2 separate regions of the Homo sapiens genome follow, and region 2 is linked to region 1. The links come from fine-mapping of genetic effects on gene expression. A gene starts in region 1. The other region holds a variant in brackets. All regions are shown on one strand. Distances are from middle to middle.

Region 1 (14,880 bases):
AAGTTCACGTGTACCTCTCTTTAATCAATACCTCTGTTCCTGAAATTATTTCCCATGGAATATCAATTAATTCCAGACATAATTCACAAATAGTGGATTTAGGGTTGGGAGTGGCTCCTAACACTTAAGCATTCAGTTTGGCTATGCCCTCAAATAGTCAGTGATCTTCCCAAAGGGGCCAAGAAGAAGCAAAACCCTGGGCTAGGAAGAACATTGTTCTCCTGCGAAGAGAACATTGTAGCCTGGGAAGTTCCCAGGCTAGCCCACTAAGGCCTGTTGACCTCATCCACCATGGGAGATGCAACACAGTTACTACACCAGTGGCTTTAAAGGACCCAGGAAAACAGCATAGAATAAGAAATGTCTTTTAATTTAACTTGTCTGGTGTTGCTTAAGGAAAAAGGGGTTCAATTACTGGCAAGTGAGAAGGTTGGTGCAGACTTGCATGAGCTCCCGAAGGGACCTCCGGGGCTGTGTGGCTGTGGCACTGAGTCTTCATTCCGCCTCATTTCCCCCCAGAACTTATGACTTTAATTTACCTGAATAGAAGCACATCCAGGCGCTGCGCCTGTGTCCAGCTGCTGAGACAGGGAAAGCGGGGTTCTGCAGGTGGCACTGGGGGTGCAGGGGGAAGAGGGAAATTGGCAGGGGGAGATATATTCTTAAGAGAACTGGAGAGTGGTTGGAGGTGAGTTTAGAAAGGGTGTGTGGCCAGGACGGAGAGGGGAGAAGGTGGGGAAGGCAGCAGGGCAGGAAGAGGTCCTGAGAGGAGAGAGGAAGAGGAGGAGGAGGAGGGGGAGAGGAAAGCCAGGACACTGAGCTTCCCCAGGCAAGGAGGAGTTACATATGAGAAATGGGGTGACATCATGTGTCTTCCTGAGGGGCAGGAAGAGACTCTGGGGAAGAAATGTGTGTTGAGCGATTGATCTTACAAAGTCCAAACTTCTCTGGGAATTCAGGGCATTTGTGCTGGCATTCCTGGAGGTGGAAGTGGGGAATCTGAGTCCTATTCTCTGCCTTTCAGTAGCTTAGAGCTTATTAAACTCCTTCCTGTCCCCTCACCCCAACACCCTTATCAGTTCCTGTCCCCCCCACCTCCTACAAAAAGTTATGACTGTGAAGCGTTAAACCAGCTCAGGACAGTACCTGGCAAGATTAAGATTCCTGTAGCCCAACTCTAACCAAATCCCACTCCTACCCCAACCCTTTCGGAAAGCTGCAGCGGCCCCTCCTACCTGCCAAGCTAAGGCCCTTGCTCAGGTGGCTCGCAGCTCTCTAAAGGTAACCTGGCTGGGCTGCTCCCCCTTCAACCCTCTCCCTGCCAGCATCTTCGACCTGAGCCCAGACCAAATGCCTCTGCCTTCCTCTCCCGCCTCGCCCACTCGCCGCACTGGGGGCATCCTCTCCTCTCTTTCAGCCATGGAGCATTGTGTGTGACCCTAAGGAGGCTCAGTGACTGAGTAGCCCCCTCACTCTCCCCCAGGGCCCACCTCTGAGCCACATTCCCACCTTCACGTCACATCCTCTCCCCGCCCCATACACACATACACACAATCCCACTTCCATGCTGCCCTTAGACCTGGGCAAGGGTCCCTGCTCTGGTCCTCCTGCTACAGAGGGCATCACCGTGGCCCTTGTCAATTACACTCCCTCCACGCCCCACCCCCCGTCACAGGGCAAGGAGGAACTTCCACTCGATTTTCAAACCCATGCTCTTGGAATTCTTTGCCCAGGAGGCCAGAGCCCACTTCTAGACCTTCCTCTTGAGTGCAGCCTGTGCCTGTGCCAGAGTGTGCACCCAGGCATGGGGCAGCCACAGGACAGCTGTCTGTGGGAGGTCTGCACAGAGCCGACGGTGTTGCATGTCTGTCACAGCAGAAGGCCCCTTGCTGTGTGGGATGGGCAGAATATGGTGCGGACGGACACACCAGGGTGCAAGGCCAGAGGCAGACACTCTTGTCATAGCGTGTTCCATACAGAACTCCGAGGAGTGGAAAGTTGTGAATGCAAACCTGACCTTCCAGGTCTTTCCAAAGGTATATTTGTCAAGGTGGGAGGCTAGACCATGATTGACTTAACAATGGATTCATTTGGTTGATGGCTTTAAAATACTTGACTCATGGCATAAGGCCTCCCTTGAGTCTTGCCCTGGGCCCTGCAAATGCTGGGGTGGGCCTGTCCAGCTCCAAACTTGATTGACTTATGCGGGGTTTCTGAAGCTTTCACAGAACAGGGGAGAGGGTGACTTTGCCTATCACAAACCCAAACTTCCTAGAATTTCTTTTTAACCAGCTCTGCTCTTCCGCCAAATTTCCTCTCCTTACTGCAACCAGCTCATCTCTCCTTTCTCCCTAGAAACCGTATCCTTGACTAGCCCCTCCAGGCTTCCTAGATCCACCCTCCCCACTTCCCCAACTTCATGATCTTACAAAACCCTCTCAGCTCCCATCCTCTCCCTGAACAAAAGCCCTGTTTCTGGATAAACAGCTCTCAACAAAGGAGGAGCCTGTCCTTGGCCAAAATGGCTTGTTCTCCCCATTTGTCCTACTTTCTGTTATTACAATCTACGTTCCATCAAGCTATGTCTTTGAGTCATCTCTCTCACTAGACAGTGAGCTCCTTGAGGGCAAACACTGTGTCTGGTTTGGCTCTGTGACTCTTCCAGCACCTTCTACTTTGAGAGCATTCATGCAAGTTTTCATGGGAGATATCACGGAGGAGTTGGAATCGGAGTTAGGCCTGAAGGGTAGGTAGAATATGGAAAATGAAGTGAGTAGAGGCAACTGGAGATTCCTTCTCTCCTGTGGGCAGTAGTGAGCAATTAAAGATTCTTGAGCTAGAGCAAGACAACACTTTAGAAAGACTGACGTCAGGAACAGTGAGATGCAGGGAAAAACTGAGAGCAGTTTGGGGGCTGTTGCCACAGCACTGAGTGTTAGAGGAGGCAGGAATGCAACGGCAGGACAAATAGATGCAGGAGGCAGTACCTTAGGCACAGCAAAATAACTTACCCGAGGCCACACAATTCAGAAGCAGAGCTAGAACTCAGGTTGCCCAGTTTTAAAGCTGTACAGTTTCCTCCATACTGAGTCACAGAGGAGATGAGGCTAGAACTGAGTCCTGAAGGCTGCTGAGGAGGAAGTTTGCCAGCAGGCATGGGCACTGGGCACTCCACCAGGGTCACTACTGGGTTCAACCAGGTGCACCCTGGAGGCCACCGCTTTCTGCAGGAGATTCTGGCCTTCCCACTTGGGAGGAAAGTACAGACCCTGACTTAGGCAGGAAGGGAGGGTTGAGAAGCACCCCATGGGGAAGAGATTCATGTTAGCTCCTTTCCCTGGGAGGAGGCAGGGAGAGGTGATGCTTACACATCCAAGTCCCTGGGTACTGGCTGAGGGATCAGGGGAGCTGCGGTAACTCCAGACACCTGCATGGTGCTTCACGGCTTCCACAACATCGTAAAGTGTTATTCCTGACCACTCCACTTTCCCCCCTCTCTACCCAGTGTATCAGATCCACCTTCCAAGGCACTTCTGGGAAGGCTTCAACCCTCAGACTTCCCTGCCCAGCATCCACACAGCCCTGTGCTTTCGCCGTCATTGATCACTTGCTCCCATCTGCAGATAACAGCTGTGTGATGTTGGCCAAGTCACTTAACCCCTTTGTGTCCCAGTTTCATTGTGTAAACAGGAGATGATGAAAGCATTGTCCACCGGTTTTTCGACCCCAGCCAGCCATGATGATGATAATGGTGATGATGCCTTGTCCTGCTGGTTGATTGTGGCTCTGTCTCCCCCACCACTCTGCAAATTCCTTGAGGACAAGATAGGAAGCACCTCTGGCTTGTCTGTATCACCTTGGGGACCAGAAACTGGCACGCACCGCTAGGTCCATTTATTCAATCCGTGAGCACTTCTGGAGCACTTGCTATGTGTCAAGCTCTGTGACAGGATCTGGGTTTAGAGATAAATAAGAAGCTCGGGGGTGGGTGGGGGTGTCCAGAGTTAAGGCAGACACAGACCATTATATAAAGAGTATGGAGAGGGTCACAGGCGCTGGGCTGAGGCCGGGTGAACATAGCCAGGCAGGAGGGAAGAAGAGGGCTTTCTCAATCAAATGAAAGCTGATTGAGATGAATCCAGTGGTCCCATCTGACCCCTACAGCAATCACATTTAAGGATGAGGAGATGACAACTCAGCCGAGAAAATCCCACTGTTAGTACGCCATGGGCTGGGGCTGGGACCAGAGCCCCTCACTTCTCAGGGTTGGGGGCTCACAGCGCATGCCTTAGAGATCCCCACTTCCACTGCTTCCCAGCCTTGGCCTCTGCCCAGAGTTGTGCAAATTAAAGGACTTCCGGGCAACATCCATTCATTCCCTGGTCTCTATCCTCCGCCCGCCCCTGCGCTCCAGGGTATTTTTAGTTCTGGGCAGCCAGGCCTGGTGAGTGATTGGCAGCAGGCAGAGCCCACGTTTCCGAACCCTCTGTGTTGCTTCTGGCTCAGCATGAGAGGTGGCTGGGCCCTAGGAGAGGGCTTAGGCATACCTGGCACCCAAGCCCACAGCTGCCTCATTGTCCCTGGGGGAGGAGCTGGGCTGCTGCCACTGACCCGAGGCTGGGAGCATTCTTTCCTGCTGATTCATCATGGGGAATGTTTTGGGCCCAGCTGGGGTGGGGCAGGGGCACTGGGGGGACATCTTGGACACGGGCAGCCAGGAGTGGATGGCAGGTCCCTGGCAGCAGGGTCATTAAGACCTGGCTGTCACCCAGGATCGAAAAGGTCCATCTTGACATCCTAGCTCTATCACACTCTGCCTGTCCAGGCTTATTCTTACTTGCACATCTGCCTCCCCCACCAGACTGGGAAGGCCCCCTCCAGCGTCTAGCACTCCAGCACCCTGTCTAGCATGTAGGAGAAAATCAATAAAGGCTTGTGGGATGAATGAACCTTTGGAAGGACGTTTAGGCAAGGTGGGGGCAAGAGGGGGAACCAGGTTGGGCAGCTGTGGGCCTAGGGAGGAAACCGGGAGGCTGGAACCCTCTGCCCATTTTACAGATGGGGCCAGTGAGGCTAAGGGCAGGACCAGGTCTAGGGGAAAGAAACTGGGGGCTTGGACTGGGGTTCAGGCACCTAGGTGCTCAGTTCAGCTGATGGGACTCCTCTCTGTCAGCCATGTCCACATTTCTTTAATTCTACAGTCCCTGCTCCCTGCACTAACACCCTCCTCCCGTGAGTCTGACAAGGGCCAGGACTGCATCATTCAGCTCTGTGAAGGGGTTCTCCCATTCACTGTGTATTGCCTGGAGGAGCAAGTTATGTCGCCTGGGGCTCAGTGTTCCCAGCTGCACAATGGGCAGCGCAGAGTTTCACACGGAGGGCGGGGGGGGGGGGGGGGGCGGTATTCAGTAAACTCTGGGTGACTCGCCTGTTCCTGCAGGAGAGCACCGCTGCACCGCGCCACCTCGACCTCTCTGAACTGAGCCCCGGCCTCCCAGAAAGGGCGTCTACATTGTCCTAAGTGACCGAGCTCGTGAGATTCGGCCCCTGTGACAGCCGGGCGCTCCCGTGCGAAGGGTGCTGTGCCGGGGGCCCTGGCACCCACCAGGACTCACAGACTGGGACTCTAGGTGGGCGTCATTACCTTGTTCTGCAAAAGAGGAAACTGCCTGGGAGAGGGACTCCCGAGGCCGCCGCGGCCCTCCCTGCAAAACAGCCGCGGGCCCAGCGCCGCCCTTTCCCGAGAGCTCCGCTCCCCGCGACCCCCCGCCGCCCCCCCGCTCCCCCCGCCCCCCGGGACTTCCCGGCCCCGCCGGCTGCGGCTGGGCGCCCCCGCCACCTGGCCTGTGTCCCGACGGGGGGCGCCGCGCGGAAGGCCGGGCGGGGCGCCCGCGGACTCCAGGCCCGCCCGGGGCGGGGCCTGCGGGGCCTCCTCCGCGGCCAGCTCGGGGCTGGGGGGCCGCGGGCGGGAGGCGGATAAAAAGGCCCCAGGGCGCCCGGGGAGGGAGCCCGTTAGCGCTGCTCCGCCGCGGCGCCCGCCCAGCCCCGGACTGTCCGCGCTCCATCTGGTGAGCCCCCGCCTGGCCGCGCGTCTGCCTCTTGGTCTGCCTCTTGCTGTCCCATCTGTCCTTCTGTCTCTCTGTGAGTCTGCAGGCCTCTGAGGGTTCCTGGAGACTGGGCCTAGGGTGCATGGGGGATCCCTTGGACCCTCAGCCCGGCCCTCCAGTCGCTCACCAACCTGCTTCCAACTGGACAAGTGACCACGCTGGGGAGCTTGGCCCAAGGCCCGCCCTGAGTGGTGCGCCCAGGCCTCAGGGGTGCCTGCGTGTCTTGTTTGTGTACACGCCGTGTGTAACCATTGCTCTGCCTTCTTCCAGGGAGGAGACAGGGAAGGGGCAAGGCGGGTTCAGATGTCACACTTACGACTTGGGGGACAACGAACCAGGGCTGATCTGGGCTCTCCAACTATCCAGACCGGAGCTGATTATGTTGGGGGGTCGGCGTGTGACAGAAACACCGAAGGGAAGGGGGCAGAAGACTTCAAGCCCCCTCTTTCCTAGCCTGGACAGGTACAGCTCAGAGACCATTTGTTGGCACTGCTTCAGGTCCACAGAGTCAGTAACCCCGGGGAGGCTACAGGGCTGAGAGGAGGCTGCTGAGAAGAGCTGCCCAACGGCAGAGAAGGGATGAGCCATCCTAAAGTTGCTGCACCCTCAGGACAGCACCCCCCATGCTCTCTCTTGAATACTCGGGCATTTGCTGTCTTCAGCCCTCCCTACCTGCGCTAGGTCAGGCCAGGTCCCAGCATCTCCTGGCACACCTGGAGCAGGTGCCTCTGTGCCTCAAGCTGGCAAGATCTTGGATCTGTCACTCGGCATTCAGCGAAGAGCACCCTGCCCAGTGCCCTCACACCACGGCCTGGGTCATAAATCCACCAGAACAGGGTGGAATTTCAGTCGGCTCCCGGCCTTCCTTTCCTCCTCCCCCTCTTCCAACATCCATTCTTGGTGGTTTTGAGAGTCCGGCGTCTAGCCAGGCTGCTTGGGTTTGAATCCTGGCTGGGCAAGTTACTTGACTTCCCTGGACCTTACCTTCTCATCTGTAAAATGGAGATAAGTATTTAATCCGTATTTTAAAATGTATAGTTATTATCCTCACTTCCCTCCCCTCCTCTTTCCCTTCCACCTTCCTTCCCTCTTCTGTCCCCTTCTCCTTTATTTGGGAAAGTAACGGCCACTTTCGAGGCCGCTTCCTTCTCTGAGGGAGGATGCACAGCTTGGTCCTCTGTGCTCAGTGCTAGGGGAACAGACAGGTGGAGTCTGGTTGTGGGGTCAGGAAGCAAACACACAATGTGCTTTGTGGAAGGCTTTGTGGGAGGGCTTAATGGAGGGGGTGGCATTTGAGCTGGCCTTGTGGGATGTGTAGGAGTTTAACAGTCTTAGATAGAGGGAAAGGAACAGTGAGAGCAAAGGCTTGGAGGCTGGGAGACGAAGGCTATAGTCTGGTGTGAGCAAAAGCTCTCGGGGGCCTATAGTGGGCAGGAAGGCCAATAAGAGGGACTCTCCCTGCATCTAACTCTTGGTTCCCGCTGCCGTCCCCCCACCTTCCAGCAGCGTTCATGGAAGGGAGCTTCCCTGGCCCAGACCCCAGGGTCCTACAGCAGAAGCCCTCCCATGCCCTCAGGTTGGTCCCTTGGAGAGGAAGGAGCTGCTGGCCTGGGACTGTCCACAGCCTGTAACAAGACCTCCTCAGTGTGTCAGGGACTTCAGCCAGGAGCCAAACAGCAGACCTGCCCAGCCTACCCTGGGCCCCATCAGAGCATGTCGGATAGGGGGGCTGTCTAGTGCCACCCCCTCATTTTACAGGTTTTTCAGCTGAGACTCAGAGAAAGGAAAATATTTGACTCCAGACACAATTTGGCGGCAGAGATAGAAGCATTCCAACTCCTGGGGGTGGTAGAGAAGGTGTGGTTGTCACTCAGCCCAGACCCATGTGACCACTGGGTCCTAATAGCTGAGGGACCTGAGGCCGATCTGTCCCATCCTTTCTTGCCATCTGGGGAGTGGTTTGGCTCAGTCCCTGGCTGTCTACCTCCTACTCCAGGGAGCACGGAGGAGGGAATGGGAAACAATGGAGAGCACTCTGCTCATGGGACAGCCAGCTGGGAGCCCCCACAAGCCTCTGAGTGACATGCAGAAGACAGTGTTTCAGTCTGGAAAGGAAGCGTGGGAGGGGTCAGAGGGGGAGAGCTGCAGAGGTGAGAATGGGAAGGCAGCCCCTGCACAGCCTCAGGGAGTGGAGAGGGGAGCATCTAGGCTCTGCAGTGTGGGTGGAGGGAAAAGGGGCAAATCTAGAGAAGGCTGCAAAGAGGAGTACCAAGGACTTGCAGTTGAGATCGGACGTGGCCTCCATTTCCTTCTTTGTACAGAGAGGAGGTGGGACCAATCTAGACCAACGGTTCTATCGTCGCTGTCACAGTAGCTGTTAATAATAGTTCATTGTTGGCCGATGTAGTGGCTCACGCTGGTAATCCCGTCACTTTGGGAGGCCAAGGCGGGTGGATCACCTGAGGTCAGGAGTTCAAGAACTGATGTGGTGAAACCCTGTCTCTACTAAAAATACAGATAAATTAGCTGGGCATGTTGGCGCATGCCTGTAATCCCAGCTACTTGGGAGGCTAAGGCAAGATAATCACTTGAACCCTGGAGGCGGAGGTTGCAGTGAGTCGAGTTTGTGCCATTGCACTCCAGCCTGGGTGACAAGAGCAAAAATCTGTCTCAAAAATAATAATAATAATAATAATAATAATAATAATAATAATAATAATAGTTCATTGTTACTGAAGGCTTGCTCTTCTAAGGATTTAATGTTTCTTCACTTAATCTTTACAAAAATCCTATGAGGTAGTTACTATTATTATCCCCACTTTACAGAGGGAGACACTGAGGCAGGGAGAAACTAAATCGCTGGCCCAAGATCACTTCCAAATGAACTGGTGGAGGCAGGATTCGAACCCCAGCAGTCTGACCGCCCAGCCTGTGCTCTCAAGCACTGTGCTGCCACCTCCCATCCATGCAACCACAGATATGAATGAGTGCCACCTACACACCTGACACTATTTTGGGAACTGGGGACACAACACATCCCCACTCCCATGGAGCTTCATTCCCAGAACTTGTTTAGTGCACTTTTAGGAGCCCACTCCACCCAGCCCTGCTGGCCAAGGCCGTTGAGAGGGAGTAGGGCAGATGCCATCCATGGAAGTGAGAGTGGCAGGGGCCTGTGAGAGCCTCCCCACTCAAGCGGATGAGCTGCATGATTCCCCAAGAGGAGCCATGGCCGTGGAAGAGGCAGGTCTCATCAGAACGAGCTTTCTTAGCCCATCTTCTCCATCCCCTGTTCCAGGTCGGCCTTAGCTTCCATCGGCAGCAGAGCCTTGGGGTGGAGGAGCTTCAGCTTCGGTGGCTCCAGAGGTCTCTGACAGCTCTAACCAGCTGAGACTCTCTCCTCTATGCCCTTCTCCACCTGCTGGTCCCGGGACCAAGGCTGCTGTGTGAGGGGGAGAGGACCTGCCCCCAGCCTCATCCCCTCTCTAAGGACCCAAAGAACGTCTGATTACAGCCTCCTGGAGACAGGGGCCCTCTCTGTTTACCGCCTGAAACCCTCCCCTGGCCCCTCGCTTCCTACAGGATGAAGGCAAACCCTCTGTGTAGTACACATGGCCCTTGATCATTGGCCCCAGCTCGTCCCTCCATCTCTTTCCCCTCCAAACCCCCACACTGTGGTCTGGGGGTAAGAGAAGGGCACTTCCTGCTCTTGCACAAACTCACCTCTTTCCCTCTTTCCTAATCCTCTTCTCTGTATCTCGAATGCCCCTTTTCTCACCCAGGAGAATCTTATTTGCCCAATAAGGCTCAGGTTAAGTGTCCCTTCTTTGAAAGGCTTCCCTAATTCTTCTTGCTTGAGCTTCATGAAGGTAGGGAGGGTGTTCGATGTCTTAATTTCTGTGTCCCAGCACCTGGCCTGAAGCAAGTATTCCAAAAATGTGTATTGAATCTACATGAATCATACGCCTAGATGGATGTGAGGCTATCACAGGGTATCCAAGCTGCAGGAGGGATCCAGATGATATGTGGTTCCATCTCCTCACTTTAGAAATAAAGAGTCAGGGCCGGGCACAGTGGCTCACACCTGTAATCCCAGCACTTTGGGAGGCCAAGGCGGATGGATCACGAGGTCAGGAGTTCAAGACCAGTGTGGCCAAGATGGTGAAACCCCGTCTCTACTACAGATACAAAAAAATTAGCTGGGCGTGGTGGTGGGCGCCTGTAATCCCAGCTACTCAGGAGGATGAGGCAGAGAATTGCTTAAACCTGGGAGGCGGAGGTTGCAGTGAGCTGAGATTGCAGCACTGCAGTCCAGCCTGGGCGACAGAGAGAGACTCTGTCTCGAAAAAAAAAAAAAAAAGAAAGAAAGAAAGAAAAAAGAAAGAAAGAGTCAGGACCTAGAGAGTTGAAGAGACTTGCCCAAGCCATGCAGCCAATGAGTGGTGGAGTCCTTGATGCCCATCTAATAGCCCTTTCTGCTCCAGCCTTCCATGTGCCTTCTAGGTGAAGGCGGCACTTCACACATTTGATTAGGGTGCTAGGAACATCAGAAGGTGGTGGCAGTGTCCCTGGGGTAGATAGTCTTGACCTGAGGGCACCCTGGGGGCATCCCCGTGACTCAAATGGTGGACCACCTCGTCTGCCTACACATAAGATTTTAGGTGTATAAGAGCTGCTGTTTATTGTGTACTCACCAATGCTAGGACTTTGCTAAGCACTTTCCATACGGTGTTTTATTTAACACTCAACAACACCGTGAGATGGAGATTACTATCCCCATTTTACAGATGAGGAGACTGAGACTCAGTGAGGTTAAGTTTAAACTTCCTCAAGGTCATGGCGAATGTGGTGGATTTGAACCAAATCAGCTAACCTGGCCCAGACTCAATTAATGCCACTGTGTGTGTGTGTGCGCGTGCACACACACACACATTTGAGGGGGGTTTTCTTTCCTTTGTCTTGCCAGGAGCTGCCAAATTGCTGCAGAGGTCTGAGATCTGGGTAGAGGTGGTGATCACTGTCATGTTTACTCATTCCTCAGGTATCTTGGCCTCAGCTGTCCTTGAAGTCACCATGGCGTGGTCCCCACCAGCCACCCTCTTTCTGTTCCTGCTGCTGCTAGGCCAGCCCCCTCCCAGCAGGCCACAGTCACTGGGCACCACTAAGCTCCGGCTGGTGGGCCCAGAGAGCAAGCCAGAGGAGGGCCGCCTGGAGGTGCTGCACCAGGGCCAGTGGGGCACCGTGTGTGATGACAACTTTGCTATCCAGGAGGCCACAGTGGCTTGCCGCCAGCTGGGCTTCGAAGCTGCCTTGACCTGGGCCCACAGTGCCAAGTACGGCCAAGGGGAGGGTGAGTGACTGGTGCCACCTAGTGGGATGGCAAGGAGATGGTAACAGTCTTCTTGGGCTGGGCTCACTGACACCCACCCATCCTTTAATACCCTGCTCATGTGACCTCCTCCACACGGCATTTCCTGAGTGCCTCAGCTGCACATGGCCCCTACTCCCACCCTCCCATTCTCTCTTGTAATAAGGCCACCGCCGTCACCACCACTAAACTCTAAGTTCCTTGAACATAGCAATTGGCACACAGTGGGTGCTTAGAGAATGTTGAATGAAAAAATGGGCAAACAGGTAGGTCTGATTCCTAGAGCTACCCGGCATTTTCCAAAAACAGATTCTCTAAGAGCCAGCACCCAAAGGAGGTAGCAGGCAGGGTTATAAATACTTATTCCCCAGGAGACCCAAACTTCCTCCTCCCTGCCACTTTCTCCCAGGGTTTGGAAGAGGTGACTTGGTAAGTGTGGGGTCCTATGCAGGAGGCAGAGCCTGTGACCTGCCTCTCTGTGCCATCTTTGAGCATCACCTCCACTCCACAGGACCCATCTGGCTGGACAATGTGCGCTGTGTGGGCACAGAGAGCTCCTTGGACCAGTGCGGGTCTAATGGCTGGGGAGTCAGTGACTGCAGTCACTCAGAAGACGTAGGGGTGATATGCCACCCCCGGCGCCATCGTGGCTACCTTTCTGAAACTGTCTCCAATGCCCTTGGGCCCCAGGTGAGGAGGCTGTTCAGGCTCTGGTCTGAGCCAAGGGCTGGGTCAGAGAACAGAGAGCCTCCCAGAAGACGGGCCTAGAGGATAAGCGAGGGGAAAGGGTGCAGTCTGCACTGAGCATCGTCCCCAGGCCGCCGACTCCTGAGTGTGCCCTGCAGCAGGTGCATAAATAGAGGGCCCCAGCCTGAGGCAAGGCAGGCCAGAGGACCAGAGCTGACCCCACTGGGAATCGCAGAAGCTGCTCCCGTAAGGGAGACAGCATTGGGTAAGGGGCTCCCTCATCCATGAGGCCTGGCCACAATTGCTGCCTCTTCCCAGCACAAACAACCCTGAGCTAAAAACAGCCCAAGCCAAACAACAGGAGCGGGCAGGGCAGGGCTCTGCTGCCAGGCAGCCTCCAGCCTCAGGACAGCTGGCCATGGCCACTGAATGCAGCGTGTTGTGATGGGGACTCTGTACTGGTCTAAGTCATCCCAGGGCTAGGGTTGGGGGTTCTTGTGGGCCATAGGATCCTGCTGTGGTCTCAAGCAGCTGGTCTATGCCCATCTCAGCTCTCTCAGGGTGGTACAGAGAAGGCCCTTCCATGCCCAGCAAAAGCCTCCCAAACTCCAAGGGCTCCCATCCTGATCCCAGCGGGGGCCAGATCTGCCTAGTTCTCTCCAATTTGACAAATTCGAGGAACTGAGGGAAAGGGCTTAGACAAGCTGAGGTTCTGCCTTGCACTTACTCTGTGGCCTTTGATAATGCCTCCCCTTCTCTGGGCCTCAGTTTCCTGGCCTGTTCAATGACCGGGCTGGGTGGGATGGTCTCGAAAAGCTCCAAGCCCCAGCCTTTCTGCATGAAGATCTGCAGCAGGCTCCACTGGAGGAGCAGGAGCCCCGAGGCCCACAGGTGACTGTGCACCCCGCAGGGCCGGCGGCTGGAGGAGGTGCGGCTCAAGCCCATCCTTGCCAGTGCCAAGCAGCATAGCCCAGTGACCGAGGGAGCCGTGGAGGTGAAGTATGAGGGCCACTGGCGGCAGGTGTGTGACCAGGGCTGGACCATGAACAACAGCAGGGTGGTGTGCGGGATGCTGGGCTTCCCCAGCGAGGTGCCTGTCGACAGCCACTACTACAGGTAGGAGGGCGGCTGGCGTAGGCCCCACAGGAGGCAGGGTTGTGGGGCAGGGACTGAGTGTGTGTTCATGTGCGTGCATGTGATGTAGGGTGTGTGCATGAGTCTGAGTGTGGACTCATGTGAGGGGCAAGTAAGTATGCACACAGGCGAGTGTGTGATGTGTGTGGCATGTGGGACCTCGCAGAGTTCAGTGAGTACTGACTGGCAGTGGTGTTGTCTGTGGCAGGACATCCAGCAGGTGTTGGGATTGGGGGAGAGAAAACAGGCCCTACTGAGGAATGTGCCCAGATTTCTTGCTTCACGGGTGCCTCAGAATAATAAACAGGAAAGTGAATAAGGAGGACCTTCAGGATCCTGGGAAATACCTAGAAACAGTCAGAAAACAAACACTGCACTCTCGAATTATGTAAACAGAATTAACTAGGTACAGAACGCCCCCCCACCCCCCGCCCCCGGTGAAAACAGTTGAACATAAAACCGCGTGTCCTTGGTTAAAACACTAGACTTTCCTGCAGATACTTGCAGTGACACCCACGTGTAGAGTTTAGACAAACTGTTCTGGCCTCAGCTCAGCCAGTGACTGGCGTTAGGGCTTTGGGGAGGGCCTCTGAGCCTCCATCCTCAATTCCACTGCGAATATCCCAACGCTTCCCTCCTGAATTTCCTCAGCTCTGATCAAGCCAGGCTGTGACTGGGTTGTGTGTAAGTGAGGCGTGGGGTGGGGCACCTGGAGAGAGGAGACATAAAAATATTCTGTCAGAAACAAGGCGGAACTGTCACAACTGATTGCATCAACCAGTAAACGACAGCCACAGTCATGGTTCTGCCAGATCCGTGTCAGGGAGGACTTGTGTGTTTCCCATCAAGTGAGAAGTCTCCCGTAGTACGTCTGAGTCATCTGCCACCCCAATCAGTTTGATCCTGCTTCCCTAAAGGGTTAGAAGGCCCTTGTTGCAGTGACTTAGAGGAACCCCGTTCTGAGGAAACAGGGGTGCTGGTCAGCCTCTGGCTCCATCCTTGGGGATCCTGGGATGCAGCCTGACTCCCCCTGCCTGGTAATTGCACACCTGGGTCTCGCTGACTTGCCTGCCACCCATGAGGAGGGCAGGCCTGATGGTAGCCTGGGTGTCTCTGGGCGGGCCGCCCCCACCAGCAAGGCCTTCACCTCCCACCTGTCCCCAGAGGGCCCCTTCTCTTGGGCCCTCCCTAAATGCTCCCCTTCCTCTGGACTTCGGAGAGGGCAAGCCTGATCCACCTGCCCCCACTCTAGGACTGGCCGAGGGACCTTGCTTGCCTTCCTTGTAAAATGGTTATTTGTGAGGTGGCCACCCCGTCAGGGCTGCTGTGAAGCTCAGCATTGAAATCAGATTAGTGAATAAGTTTACAAAATGTAAAGTCCTGTGCAAACTTAAGGACAACTATGAGGAACCAGGTGGCAGGGGGTGGGACTTCCACACCCCTTCCACCTCCTATCTGTTTTCTCCCATAACAGGAAAGTCTGGGATCTGAAGATGAGGGACCCTAAGTCTAGGTGAGGAGCAGCACCCTAGAGGGAGGAGGCAAAGGGGTGTGGCATGAAGGGCCTCTATCCCATCCCCTACC
Region 2 (14,880 bases), 84 kb before region 1:
GGCATTAGAAACAAGAGGAATAGTTTTGGTCCTCAAAGAAATGTAAAACCATTTTCAAACATTAAATTTCTTGTACCTCTTGGGGAGGGTAAGGTTTTGCAATCTGGGGCTTTTTCACTGTTTAAGCATTTCCCATTAAAATACAGCTGCCGTTTTTCTCCTTTACAACATGCAGAAGAAACCACACAGGCCAGGGGTTCGCCTTGTGCTCCAGTCATTTCCATTCACTTCCCATCCCCTGGGGATTTCATGGTTCTAGGGAGGGGCAACACATTGGAAACCTAATTCACCTAGCAAAGCTTCAGGCAGATAGAGAAAAAGCAAATACATTAGTAAAAGTGCCTCATTTATTTTGCTGTATTTAGCCACTTGATGGTCCTCATGTGGCTGTCAAGTTCCCCAGGTCACAGAAACAAGCATCTAGTGCCAGAGTGCTGCCTGCAGCTCCAGGGGGCCTTCTACACATGCAAGCACACAGGCACCCCTCATTTATACAGGCTCATTCGTGCGGCTGGAAGGTGGCAGCTCGCTTAGACCACTGCAGCAGCTTCCCAGCTGGTCTTCCTGCCTCTGGTCCCTGCCTCTGCTCAGACCCCCACACCATTGACTGACCTTTCTGAAATGCCTACACTTCTCTCCTGATATGATTTGGCTCTGTGTCCCCACCCAAATCTCACCTTGAATTGTAATAATCCTCACATGTCAAGGGCAGGACCAGGGGAGATAATTGAATCATGGGGGCGGTTTCCCCCATGCTGTTCTCATTATAGTAAGTGAGCCTCACAAGATCTGATGGTTTTATAAGCATCTGGCATTTTCCCTGCTTGCACCTATCTCTCTCCTGCTGCCCAGTGAAGAGGTGCTTTCCCCCATGATTGTAAGTTGCCTGAGGCCTCCCCAGCCATGTGGAACTGTGAGTCAATTAAACCTCTTTTCTTTATAAATTACCCAGTCTTGGGTACTTCTTCATAGCTGCGTAAGAATGGACTAATACATCTCCCAAGCTTAAAATCACTGTGGTGGCTCACACCTGTAATCCCAGCATTTTGGGAGGCCAAAGTGGGCAGATCACAATGTCAGGAGATTGAGACCATCCTGGCTAAAATGGTGAAACCCCATCTGTACTAAAAATACAAAAAATTAGCTGGGCGTGGTGGCAGGTGCTTGTAGTCCCAGCTACTCGGGAGGCTAAGGCAGGAGAATCACTTGAACCCAGGAGGCTGAGGTTGCAGTGAGCCGAGATCGCGCCACTGCACTCCAGCCTGGGTGACAGAGTGAGACTCCATTTCAAAAAAAAAAAAAAAAAAAGTCACTGTGATGGAAACAAGAGGGACAACCAGGCATTATGAACCTCTTGAAGTTGTATTGAAAAAAAAATCAAACCTGAATATAATGACATCTGTAGCTCAAACTTCCAGTTTATAGGAAGCACACAGATAGAAGCACATGTTAAATGACATCATGAGATGCAGCTCACAAAATCCAGACTGCAGGAAACTCTACAGGACAAATGACAGAAAAAATAGATGGAAAGGGACTCTACGGGTTGAAGGAGACTTAAAGAAAGCAAGGTATGAACTCTATATGGACCCTAAATCAAATTAACAAACTGTTTAAAAAAAAAGTCAATAGACATTTAGGGAGATGTGAACACCTGACTGAATATTTGATGATATTAAGGAAATATTGTTAAACATTTTAGATGACTTAATGGTATTGTGGTTGTGTGTTTTTTAAAAAAAATCCTTATATTTTAATCCAGAAACATATTGAATATTTTCTTTAAGATTAGCATCAAATCAAGCCTGAGGTTGTGGGAAGAGGTGAAGGTGCAAGTGAAACAAGACCAGCCACAAATTGATCATTGTTGAAGGTGGGACATTGAGTTCATTATATTATTACCTCTACTTTTGGTATGTTTGAAAATCTTTATAATAAATAACTTTTTAAATGAAAAACAATATTCCAATAGGTCCCCCATGGCCTATATCAGCATTGATGGCTCTGGATCTCATTGTGACCCTGAAGGAGTATGTAGACTCTCCTCTTAAAAAATACATTTGCACTCAGATAATTGCATATAATTTGAGCAGTTACAGACCCTGATGTCTCTTAGACTTCTGGCCTTTAGGTTCATGTGTTAACCAATTCCCTCTGTGGCCTGGGCTGACCTATCCAGGCTCTCCCCAACTCCCTATCATAGGCTCTGTCACACCTGCTCCTCCATGCCTCTACTCATGAGGTTCCCTCGGTCTGAAGATGCTTTCCTAAGGCCCATGCCAAATCTCACTTTCCTTCCAGCCAGCCACACACCCACTGCCCTGACCCCAACCCAGGAATAAATTCTTCCAGCCCTCTTGCCCTCTAGCCCCCATGTATCCCACCCTATAGTGAAAGCCAGAGATCGCAGTTTGCTTCTGTTACATCATGATCTCCCTGTGGGGCCAATTCACCATTTTCTTTACTGTGCTGAGCCCAGAGCTTTGTACACACCCAATTAATGTGGGTTAAAATGAATTCAATGGGAAATTTAAAGCCTCAGGGTCTGAGGAGAGCTAATGGGATCTCACAGCTCAAATACCAATATTACTGATATGTCAGAGCAGGAGAACAAAATGCTGAGCTCACCATAGCTAGGTCTTTGGTCATATTTGTCAGATGAGGAGTCTGTGCCCTGGAAGTTGTGGAGGTGGAAGTGGAATCTCTGGTTGGTGACTGACACAGCCTCACATGTGGGGACTCTATCCTTGACCTCACCTAAAAGGCAGAAGCTGCCAAAGGTGGGGGGACATTTGACTCCTGCATTTGGTGTTTTTTATTCTCTCTCTTGACAGCACTGGAGAATGTTTGGGGTGGGGTTAGGCGATGCTCTTGGGCAAATCACACTGAAGACAGGTGCTGCCCATATCCCCTCACCGCACTCCACCCATGACCTCTCCTTTCCTCACCCCTTCTGTACTTCTGGGCTGGAAACATTCCCTAATTAAGTCTCATTCACCCCTCAGTGTCAATTAGTGCGGTCTGCTAGCCCGAGGCAAGATGAAAGACTTTGGACATCCAGGAGGCAGCTCAGGCTTCTGGGCTGCAAAAACAGGGAAAAGAATTCAGAAAGGGAAGCCCAACCAGAACAGATGGGCCAAGGTGAAGTCCAGGACAAATGGAGTGGCTGGAACCAGGAAAGAAGCCACCAGGAGCCAGAGGAGAGTGCATAGGGCTTGTCAGGAACAGACAGAGTCGGTGCAAGGCCTGAAGGTGAGTCCCAGGGTCTGCAAAGCTCTCCCTGCACCCCAGCACTCACCAGGGCTCTTGCCTGGCACTTGGCCTTTCTTTTAAATGGTGTGGCCTTTCCTATTTTTTAAAAGGCATCCTTGGGCTTGACAAGATGAGAGAGGAATAAAGGGATAAAGCTCAGACATGCTTTCTTTGAGCTTGCATCGACATCTAAATGATGATGGTAGGGACAGCCTGGACAACCGCAAACAAAGATTCTATCTGCTCATCCAGGCACCTTGGCTTCCCTCACTGCAAGGGAAAGGAAAATGTTTCTTGAGGGCAGTACTAGGGTGTAACTCTGGCCACTTCACCTGCTCTCTAAGGTGGTCTTTATCATCCTCTGCAGGAGGTCGTGTCATTTCCATTGTATAGTTGAAACAGACTCAGCAAGTACACTCAGAGCAGATAAGTACCTTGTCCAAGGACACGTGGTCAGCCACTGTCACTTTTCACTTGTTGCTGATTCTTTTAAGGCAATGAGGCTCTAGTCTTCTTCAGATGATATACTTGTGCCTTGAGTCATTCCGTCAGCTCCCTCCACTAACAGTAATGCCGTTCAAACACCAGCCCTGGTGTCCAATTAAAGTCCTTGCAGATATAAGATGGTATGGACAGGGGAACTGGATTTCCCAGCTGTAAGGGATGCAGACAGGGAAGCTGACCCCAGCAGGTGAGTGTAGGGTCATACCTACCACTGCCAGCGTGGCCAGCCTTTGCTCTGTCTCCAGGTCTCTCCCTCTATGAATGATGAGTCAATTGCTAGTGGAAAATTCTTCAATGAACTTAACCATTCTGGAAGCAGTAGTCCCCTTCCAGGGCTTCTGTGTCCCTGGGCAATGTTTCTGCTTTAAAATCCCCATTTCCCCTTCCAGCAGTAGCATCTTACAGGGACCCCCAAATTGTGTACCAGTCTTAGTCACACCCACGTTTGCTGACAGATCTGGAAATTGCTCTTATTAACCCTCATTATCTCAATAGTGATTTGGTTGTGACTTGCCGTGTTTTGTTCTTCAGAGCTCCTGTGCCATCCGCTCCCTCCTTCCTATGGCTTGATGAAGGAAGGACTTGCAAAGAGAGCTGGTCTTATTCCCTCCTCCTCCCTTTCTTGTTTGCAGAACTATAGTTCCCTTATTCATTCTTTCATTTCTGCTTTAATCACAGGTTCCTGCATCCGTACTTTCATACTTTCCATTTCCTCCTCTTTGTGCTTGGAAGACTTCCTGGGGATCTCCTCCGTTTCCTGAACCTGTTCTGTCCAGAGCTCACGTCTATGCGTATTTTCACAATGACTTCCTTTGTTGATTTTAATTCCTATACAGCAATTCCAGCCAGCTGGGTAAAGGGATGATTGTAGATGACCCACCTCCCTCGCCTCCTTACCCCTTCCCTCTCCCAGGAAAATGCTCCCAGACACCAAAACTTCTGCCTCTTCACATATCACAACAGCAACATTCAGTAGCATTCCAGAGGTGTGGTTCAATGTTCAAGGCCTGTTCACTGTTCCAAGTGAACCTCCCAGCCACCCCAGAAAGAGATTTTATTCTTGCCATCCCTATTTCACAGCAAGGGAAACAAATTCAGAGACAGACTCCTGAGGTTTCCCACTGGTGAGAGGCATTGGAAGGAGCATGCAGCAGGTGCCTGCAGTTCAGAAGCGCCCACTCCTTTCATTTCATTGATCTTTACCAGCAAAAGCCTGAGATATGCAAGACACACTCTTCCACAAAGACCCAGTTGTAGACATGTGTGGATCTTCCAAACTGAATTCCCCAAAAGCATTGTCCATGCACACCCCCACCATCATGTCTGGAAGTGTGTCTGTTTCTCCACATGCTCACCAAAATTGGAAGGGTAGGATTTGGGCTGCCTGTTTGTTATTCCTGCGAAGGAAAGATGGTATCTGCTCTTCTTATTCCTAGGATCCTGGGCTTCAGGTCTTCTCTTCTTTATGGAAGACAAACGAGGAAAGAAAGGAGTTAGAGCCTCTCCATATGCTCATCTGCAACCAAAGTTCCCATCTCGGATCAGAGGTCCTCTGGCAGCTGGTGTAAGTGACGCTCCCCCAATACTCCAACCTGATCAAAATCCTGAGGCGTCTTCTCCGCAGACTGCAACAGCACCTGCATTTTACAATCTGCCACAGATAGGATCTACTTTTCCTTTATGAACATTTTAAAATACTACCTATCAGGTTCACACGGAGGTCTCTTCCATGGTCTAACTCAGACACGAACATCCTTGGTAACCGGGTCCTGCCATTCACCTCCCCTCTTCTTCCTGGGCTCAGACATTTCCCTTGATTGCCTCTACCCCCTGGAATCTCTCCCTGGTTCTTATCACTGAGCCTCTGGAACTTGTCAAAGTTTAAAACCCTCCATACTTGTTGCTTTCCTTCTTGGTTTGGACAGACACAGAATGTTTTCTCATCCTTGCTGGAACAGAATTCCGTAGCTCGAGCCATCACATCTTTCAAGACAGGACTTTCGCCTGAGCTCATGCTCACAAGCTTGGCACATCCCCACAGTCCACACCCTATGGCCACCAGCAAAACCCATTATCCTCGGCTTCCCTCCAGGGCCAGGCATGTGGGACTGTGGAGAGCCCTGCTCACGTAGCGAGGTCGCCCTTCAGCACGAGATTCCCCCTGCATAGCCTGCATGTGTCTTACTGGGGGTGGGGCAGGGGTGGTGGAGCTGCCTGGGGTCTTGCTGGGGTGGGGCAGGGGTGGTGGAGCTGCCTGGGGTCTTGCTGGGGTGGGGCAGGGGTGGTGGAGCTGCCTGGGGTCTTGCTGGGGTGGGGCAGGGGTGGTGGAGCTGCCTGGGGCAGTGATACACCAGTGAGTTACCAGGGGACTGTAGCTCTGAGGCAGTCTCCAGCAGAGCCAGGGTGAAGGCTGATGCTGTGAGTCTGAGAGATAGTAATGAACCTGGAGACCAGGGCAGCCGTGAAAGTGCAGCAGGGTCTGCAGCCAGCGCTCGGCAGTCACACAGCAGAGCAGGGAAGGAAATGAAGTCTCCAAACAGTACTAATCCCACCACAGCTATTCCCACCCCATCTCCTTTTTTACCTTCCTGGTCTTTTTTTTTTTCTTTTCTTTTCTTTTTAATCTTGAAATAATGATAGGAAGTTGCCCAGTGGTTACGGGAATAACTATCACACAAAATCTGAACCAGGAATTTGACACCAGGTCAGTGTGTGTGTAGCTCTATGCCATTTCCTCACATGTGTACATTTGTGTAATCATCACTGCACTCAAGATACAGAACTATCTCATCACTACCAGGAGTATAGCTATTCCTTTTATTGGACCCTAAAGGTATTCCAGCTACCATGCTAAGCATGATTTTGTTTCTTCCTAAAACACCCTAGAAAATAGGGTCTCCAATTATCTTCATTTCACACATCAGAAGACTGAGGCTCAAGGTGGTCATGTTTCTCACCCACATTCTCATGGGTAATAAGAGCAGAGGACTCAAGCTGGTGTCTTGGTGTCTCCATTACACAGCCAAGCATCATGTACTGTCTCTGCACGTGGGTCAGGAGGATGCTTTTAGTCTAGATCTGTCGGGTATCAAGCTGGACTGGACACCTTGAGAAGAATATCATCCTCACATCTGTCTTGTCTGATTTCATCAACAAACGGGTTCATGTTGACAAACCTTTAGAGTGGAAAGTGGTTTGTGGCAGACAATGGAACAACAGCATCATTAAGGAGCATCGACCCTAAACAAGAGAATGAATTTGTAAGGAACAAGATCAAGCAAGAAGCACGTTTTCTCCAGGATAGCAAAAAAGGGCAGGATTAATCAGAGTTGTGAGTCAGGGGCTGAAACAGCAGATGGGTGAGCGTAAGAGCCATATAGCATGAGAGTTGGAAGGGAACCAAAGCACTCAGCAGGTGTGCTCTGGAAGGGGCTCCCTTCCCGCCTCCCAGGTTCAAGCGATTCTCCTGCCTCAGCCTCCCAAATAAGCTGGGATTACAGACGCCTGCCACACCTGGCTAATTTTTGTATTTTTAGTAGAGACGGGGTTTCACCATGTTGACCAGGATGGTCTCAGTCTCTTTACCTTGTGATCCTCCCACCTCGGCCTCCCAAAGTGCTAGGATTACAGGCGTGAGCCACCGTGCCCAGCTGCAACATATTTTTTGAAAGTCAAATGCAAGTCTGTTTGGCCTGGTGCAGTGGCTCACACTTGTAATCCCAGCACTTTGGGAGGGCGAGGTGGGTGGGTCATTTGAGGTCAGAAGTTTGAGACCAGCCTGGCCAACATGGTGAAACCCGGCCTCTACTAAAAATACAAAAATTACCTGGGCATGGTGACAGGTGCCTGTAGTCCCAGCTACTCAGGAGGCTGAGGCAGGAGAATCGCTTGAACCCAGGAGACAGAGGATTCAGTGAACTGAGATCACACCACTGCACTCCAGCCTGGGTGACAGAGTGAGACTCTGTCTCAAAAAAAATAAAAAATAGAAAAAGTCAAATGCAAGTCTGTTTGAGACTCTAGCAAGGACTGTGGTCAGGATCTCTGGTGCAGTCAGTGTAGCTGCTGGCAGAAAATCACTAATTTTGAAATGTCTCAAAGCGGTTTCCACTTGAGGAGCAAGATAACTGCTGTTTAGTGAGATGGGCTTTTGGAAATGGCTTGATGTGGCCATTCACGCAGCCATAACTTACGCATAACTTCTCTCTTTTTTTATGGCTGCAACATTTTATGGTT[A/G]CATGTTAATCACATTTTCTACTTCCTCCTCCCCTAAGCTCAGCCCAGGCAGTGATGTTTAAGAGCCTCCTCTCGGCACGAAGTGAGGATGCCTGAGATCTTAGTTGACGGCAGCTTGCAGACTTGGAAGCGTTCCCTTCAGTTATCCTAGAGAATGTGGGCTTGTCTGAGGTCAGGATGCAGGAAGTGTCTGTGTTGGCCCGACCTGCTGGGTCCCCAGGGAGCCATATTTCAACAGCAAGAAAAATGCATAGTTCTTGCTTTTAGTTTCAAATCCAGATGTGCACACTCTGAGGAGGCAGCGTGCTGAGAAGTGTTCGAGGTGAACATTCAGGGCAGCTGCTCTTCAGAAGCAAGGCTTGTAATGTGGTCCCCAAGTACCCTCTCCTGCTGTTGGTCTGGAATCGACATTGCCGGTCCAGATGTTTTGAGATAAGCTGTAAATCTCTCCCTGCCTCTGATTTGATCTAATGAGAGGGCGTGACTCGTGGTACTAGTGGGCGGGATGACTCCTCAGTGGGGTACCTCCAGCCATCCTTCCGGGGTGGCCTCAGGGTGTGAGTTATGGCCCCAGCGGATTCATCATTACTTGAAAGTTTTGCACATGGAATTGTTACCTACGTCTGCAGATACCAGGAGGGCAGGAAAACTTAAATGTTCCAACAGACTGGTTGATTCTTTTAGCTGTGATCCCAAAATTCCGTGGAGAAAAGCACAAGAAGCTCTGGGATGTGAATCCTGGAGACACGGGAGAGGCTGGTATTGCTGAGAGACGAACACTCTTATGCCAACCCAAAAGGTAACTGATAAGCAAATGGGGACTTCAAGGCCACTGTCCAGAGGAGGCAGCCTCGAAGGGGGCAGGCTGCTGTTGTTTTATCAGGTGATCACACCGAGAAATTGTTACTGGGGTTCCTTGCTCACAGAGCTCCCAAGATGGTGGTGAGCCGCTTCCAAGATGGTGGCAAGCCTCGTGTTCTCTGACCTGGGGGTCTTGGCCTCACGGATTCCAAGGAATGGAATCTTGGGCCATGCGGTGAGTGTTATAGCTCTATTGGAAGCTGTGGGTCATGGAAGAGAACTGTAGAACCCAGTGACTAGTGTTCAGCTCGATTAGGATGAACCCAGGCCCTTAGCCATGCAGGAAAAATGGCAAGCCTTTAGCACGATCGGGAGTGGCAATGGGTGCCTCGCTGGATCAGGAGCACAGCGGACACCCTGCGGGATCTGGAGGGATTGAAGTGAGCAGCGGGTCTGTGACTGTGGCAAACAGCAGTGGTGGACTGTGAGCGAAAGCTCAGCTCAAGCCATAACAAACACAGAAGAGTGCAGTTGCAAGATTTAATAGAGTGAAATAGAGTGAAAACAGAGCTCCCATACAAAGGGAGGGGACCCAAAGGGGGTTGCCATTGCTGGCTCGAATACCTGGGTTTATATCCTGATCATTGTCCCTCCTGCTGTGCTCCCAGGCAACAGATGATTGGCTATTTCTTTACCTCCTGTTTTTGCCTAATTAGCATTTTAGTGAGCTCCCCTTACTATCTGATTGGTCAGGTGTGAGCTAAGTTGCAAGCCCCATGTTTAAAGGTGGAAGTGGTCACCTTCCCAGCTAGGCTTAGGGATTCTTAGTCGGCCTAGGAAATCCAGCTAGTCCTGTCTCTCAAAATGTTCTAGTTTCAAGATGCAGGTATCTTCCTTTAAATCTAACTTTTTCTAAGTGTTTTACTGTGCCCCAGATACCCACATGCAGATTTTTCACTTGATCCTCATAATAGCCTTTTGCAATAGGTGTTATGATCCACATTTTACCAATGACCACAATGAGGCTCAGAGAGAAAAATAACTTGCCCAAGGCCCCTCAGCTTGTAAGTGGCAGAATGAGCATCCAAATCATGCTTCCTCCTTGAAATTTTTTTTACCAAGGGAGTGTCTTAGTCAGCTCAGGCTGTTATAACAAAATACCACAGACCAAGCAGCTTAAATGGCAGAAATTAATTTTCTCACAGTTCTGGGAGCTTGAAGTCCAAGATTTAGGTGTCGGTCCATTTGGTTTCTAGGGAGGGCTCTCTCCCTGTCTTGTGGACAGCCGCATTCTTGCCATGCCCTCACATGGCCTTTTCTCTGTGGCAGAGAGAGGAGAGAGACAACAGAAGCGCATCCTGGTGTCTCTTCTTGTAAGGACACTAATCCTATCAAGTCAGGCCTGCACCCTTGTGACCTTTTTTAACCTTAATTACTTCCTTAAGGGCCCTATCTCAAAGTACAGCCACACTGAGTTTAGGGCTTCAACATATTGTTGGAAACAGTGAGTTCCTCTTCAAAGGTTCAGCTTGTCCTCTATTTTCAAAGCCTAACTTCCTTGCCTCCTTGCCCCCAGTTATGGTAAACAACCTTCCAGCCATTCCCAATCTGTAACCCACGTCCATTCCCAATCTGTAACCCACACCCATTCCCAATCTGTAACCCACACCCATTCCCAATCTGTAACCCATATCCGTTCCCAGTCTGTAACCCACATCTGTTCCCAATCTGTAACAACCCACATCTGTTCCTTATTTGGCACCCTTAGTTCAGAAACTGCTCTTCCCTCCACTGTAGCCCCCACCCCTGCTCAATTTTGAAGTAGCCAGTCGGGATCAGCTTAGATGGTATGGTGCGACCCCAGCCAATGGAGACCGGACACAGTAGTAGGGACTGACTGCATTAGGGATAAAAACCCCTTCCCTCCTTTGTTCGGTGTGCTCTTGCAGTGACCAGAAGAACGAGCAGCACCCTTCTGCAGAAGTAAGTTTGCCTTGCTGAGATATCCTTTATTTGAGTGCTCATTTTCTTTGCAACTCTGAGCTCTTATTTCCAACAATGTGAATTTGGGGGTGTTGAGGGACACAAACATTCGGCCTGTAAAAGGGGGCTGCCAGTTCCTGTTCCACATGGTATGTGGAGGTCCTGAACAAAGAACCTCCAGGGTCAGTTCAGCATGGAGTAAACAGTGGTCTTCCTTACACCAAGAGAGAATGCCTGGCTGAAGACGGGGCGATGGGAGCCGAGGCCATGTGTACCAGTGAGAGGTATAGTCTGGCTGGAGAAGGAGGATGCAAGTCATGAGTTGTTCTGAGATGGGTGAGGGTGGTGTCTGATGTTCCTTATCAAGGGGTGTGAGTTGAGGATGAAAAGAATTCTCAAGGAAGGGAAATGGCAGAGATCCCAGATCATTCCTCTTTTCCCTTCCCTCTTCCCTTTCCTCCCCCTTTCCCTTTAATTAATTAATTAGTTAATTCATTAACTTATTTTGGACTTTGCCTCTGGAACCCTGCAGATTAGAATAAATTGTGGCCATGGAGGCCCTATTATATCTCATTTAATAACATAGTTCCTCAGTTTACCTACAACATTAGTGCCACAAATTCATCCAGCCTCTTCTTGAATTTCTCCTCTGTCTAGAAACTCACCACCTCCTGAGCCAGCCCATTCTATTCTCAAGTGTCTTTAACCAAAACAAACGCCATCTCTCTGTAGGTCCTGGTTCTACTTTCTGGGGCAATAAAAATGGAGTCAGCTTTTTAGAAGACAGAACAAATCTTGTCCTACTCAATATTCACAGATCTCTTTTTGTTTGTTTGTTTTGAGGTGGAGTCTCACTCTGTCACCCAGGCTGGAATGCACTAGTGCAATCTTGGCTCACTACAACCTCTGCCTCCTGGGTTCAAGCAGTTTTCCTGCCTCAGCCTCCTGAGTGGCTGGGTTACAGGTGCACAGCTAATTTTTGTATTTTTAGTAGAGATGGGGTTTCACCATGTTGATCAGGCTGATCTCAAACTCCTGACCTCGTGATCCACCCGCCTCAGCCTCCCAAAGTGTTGGGATTACAGGTGTGAGCCACTGCACCTGGCAATATCCACAGATCTCTTATCTGATCTTCACACTTGGTGTTTCCTTCCATATTTTGATCTCCAAGAGGACCTGGTTACTTTCTAAGATATATTTCATTTTACACCAGCAGCAAATTCTCATTAAAAAAGCTTGCAGGCTGGGCGCAGTGGCTCACGCCTGTAATCCCAGCACTTTGGGAGGCCGAGGCAGGTGGATCACGAGGTCAAGAGATTGAGACCATCCTGGCCAACAAGGTGAAACCCCATCTCTACTAAAAATACAAAAATTAGCTGGGCATGGAGGCTGAGGTAGGAGAATCACTTGAATCCGGGAGGCAGAGATTGCAGTGAGCCAAGATTGCACCACTGCACTCCAGCCTGGGTGACAAGAGTGAAACTCTGTCTTAAAGAAAGAAGAAAGAAAGAAAAGAAAAAGAAAAAGCTTGCATTCCCCAGAATTAAGCTCATTTTAACTGTTCCCTACATTGCTTCCTTCTGAGCCATAAGGCCACCATTCATCCCCTCAAAAACCACTTAATGACATTTTCTTTGTTCCAGTACCCCTCAAGGCACAAGGAACATAGCTCTGAGCAAGATGGACAGAGTTCCTGATTTCAGAGGGTTTACAGTCTAATGGGGGAGGCAGGGAAGACGGGCAAACAAAGAAGAAAGTCAGGTAGGAAATGCCATGAAATAATAATGTTTTCTTTCACAATCAGACTACAGTTCTAATGCCTAGTGAGCACTTATTTTCAGCAAGGCACTTTGCTAATTATGAAACGAATAGTCTTGTATGCAAGTATAGCTTTCTAAAAAAAAAAAGTTCATAGGGCTCTGATCCTAGCAAGAACCTTGTAAAGTAAACAGGATAAGCATTATTCTGATTATTAAGCCCACTTTGCAAATGAGGAAACTGAGACTTATTTTAGTAGCAATGCAGCCAGTGAGGGTGCAGGAACTCATAGCCTCTGACACCAGCTGCTCTCTACAGCGCCTCACTGCCACTCATTGACGAGTTTGCTGATGACTTACCCTCATTTCCCAAGCCAGCTCTGGTTTAGTCATTAGTAGTATTATCTGCCGGTTTTTTGGCAAATGTATGCATTCACACATTTATGTGATGACTTTGGTGGTTTGGAAAACAGATCTTGCATCTCAGCCTTTGTAGGGAGGACGTTGATGCAGGGAGCCAGGAAGAGGCTGGCCAGCATCCAGAGGCCCTACTCTGGATAGGGGGTAGATTTCCACATCAGGAAGTGCAGAGTGAGACATCTGGCGAAGTCAAGTGGCCACTCAGTCAATAGCCAGGATTTGGGGTCAGGTCATAGCAACAGCTGAAGGAAACAACCATGCTGGGTCAGCGGGTCCTGGGGCTTTGGGACAAGCAAAATGTGAAATCTCCCAACCACAGAGGAGGAGGAGGAGGCAGTGTTTGGAAGTCAGCTAAATGAGGGGCAAAAAATGTTTCTGCCTCCATCACTCAGCACCTCCCCTGGCTGCTGTGCCCTTGAAGGACTGACTCTCAGGCCTTCCTTCTACTTGCTCAAGAAGGGACGATCCCAAAATGAATGCACCCGTCTTTCTTCGGATTTCTCATTATTAGTCTTTTCTTGAATAACCTACATAGGACATGTTTTATTCATCTCCTAATTGGTTCCTTAGTCACTCTGCTGTGGAACCTTTTCATGACATACCTGCATTGGACATACATCAATCCCTCGTGTTTGCAGGGACTGTTCAGTTACCTAGACCAGGGCCAAATAGGGGAGCCCCGGGATTTGACACTGAGATGGTTCGGGGCTCTGCCAAAGACACCAGGTAAGACAGAGGCATAGTGGGAAGCAGGCTCTCTACAAGGAACCAAATAGACTCGAAGCAGACTTTAACTTTGCAAGGGAAGGTAAGATGAAGCGGCATGACAGAGGGGAGCAGAGGCTTTTCATCTTCTTCCCTCCCACCTTCACCAGCTGGATCTGGACCCTGCAGAAGGTCATCTTTTCCAAGTAGCCTGGTCCCAGTAGCAGATTCAAGGCTCTGAGCTGTGGTAATTATTATTATTATTAGGGCCTGGGGCCAACTGAATGAGCATTCCCACCATGCACTCAATAGTTAGACCATATTGGTCTATAGTGAGCAGCATGAGTTGTCCTTAAAATGACATGTGGGGTGGAAGTAAAATGAAAACCAGGGAGTCAAAAGCAAAGTAAAAATGTAAACTAGGGATCCAAGCCAGCGAAGCTGTGATTGGTGGGGATGGCCTTTGATGTGTTCTTTTCTTTCCTTTTCTTTTTTTTTTTTTTTTTTTTTGAGATGGAGTCTTGCTCTGTCACCCAGGCTGGAGTACAGTGGTATGATCTCAGCTTACTGTATCCTCTGCCTCCCCATGTTCAAACAATTCTCCTACCTCAGCCTCCCAAGTAGCTGGGATTACAGGCATGCACCACCATGCCTGGCTACTTTTTATATTTTAAGTAGAGACAGGGTTTCACCATGTTGGCCAGGCTGGTCTCGAACTCCTGACTTTGGGTGATCCTCCCACCTCAGCCTCCCAAAGTGCTGGGATTATAGGTGTGAGCCACCACGCCCAGCCTGATGTGCTCTTTAATTAGCCCTGGATGACTTTCATTAGCCCTCTGAGCCTATTTCCTTGTCTGTGACATGACAGGGATGAACCAAGTGAACCCCAAGGTCCCATCAAGCTTGAAGACCCCAGGTTCCTGGGAATAAACCTTCAAGAGGAATGAGAAAGCAGAGGAAGACTTACAAAAAATTATTTAAGGATAGGAGATGTTTCCAAATGTTGCAAATTTGCCTTCTATTTGCATTTACATTTCCCAGTTTACAGTGTTTTCACAAATACTAGTTCCCTTGTTAAATCCCCACAGTGACTATGAGCCCCCTGGTCTTATAGAGATGGAGCTGATGTGGTTCTATGGAGTTAAGAGAGTTGTCCAAAGTGGCATCTAGCATGAACGAGGATGCAAACCCAGGATGACTGGCTTGGCCGCCCTTGGCCACC

Alleles and levels. Alleles are on the strand shown, and positions count from the first base shown. SD is a standard deviation of normalised expression in the study named.
In carriers of allele G in region 2, the expression in fibroblasts of the gene that starts at base 6,006 in region 1 tends to be higher than with A alone (moderate effect, 0.64 SD a copy in GTEx).

Evidence for each region. PIP is the estimated chance that this variant, and not a neighbour inherited with it, causes the effect.
Region 2: its variant is fine-mapped to the expression of LOXL4 in fibroblasts (GTEx, PIP above 0.99).

The regions. Positions count from the first base shown.
Region 1 is chr10:98,259,320-98,274,199 of GRCh38, reverse strand. It overlaps LOXL4 (lysyl oxidase like 4), which reads left to right and starts at 6,006. Exons shown (of 15, transcript NM_032211.7): 1 at 6,006-6,068; 2 at 11,149-11,457; 3 at 11,987-12,165; 4 at 13,073-13,278; 5 at 14,771-14,809. The coding sequence starts at 11,181. LOC124902489 (a long non-coding RNA gene) reads right to left here and starts at 5,758. Exons shown (of 2, transcript XR_007062260.1): 1 at 3,012-5,758. RefSeq lists enhancers at 6,059-6,558, 6,559-7,060, 11,827-12,716.
Region 2 is chr10:98,342,948-98,357,827 of GRCh38, reverse strand. No RefSeq gene overlaps it. Among named protein-coding and RNA genes, the nearest start is that of MIR1287, 45 kb to the left of the region's middle. RefSeq lists an enhancer at 3,410-3,914. The variant A/G (reference allele first, on the strand shown) is at 7,993.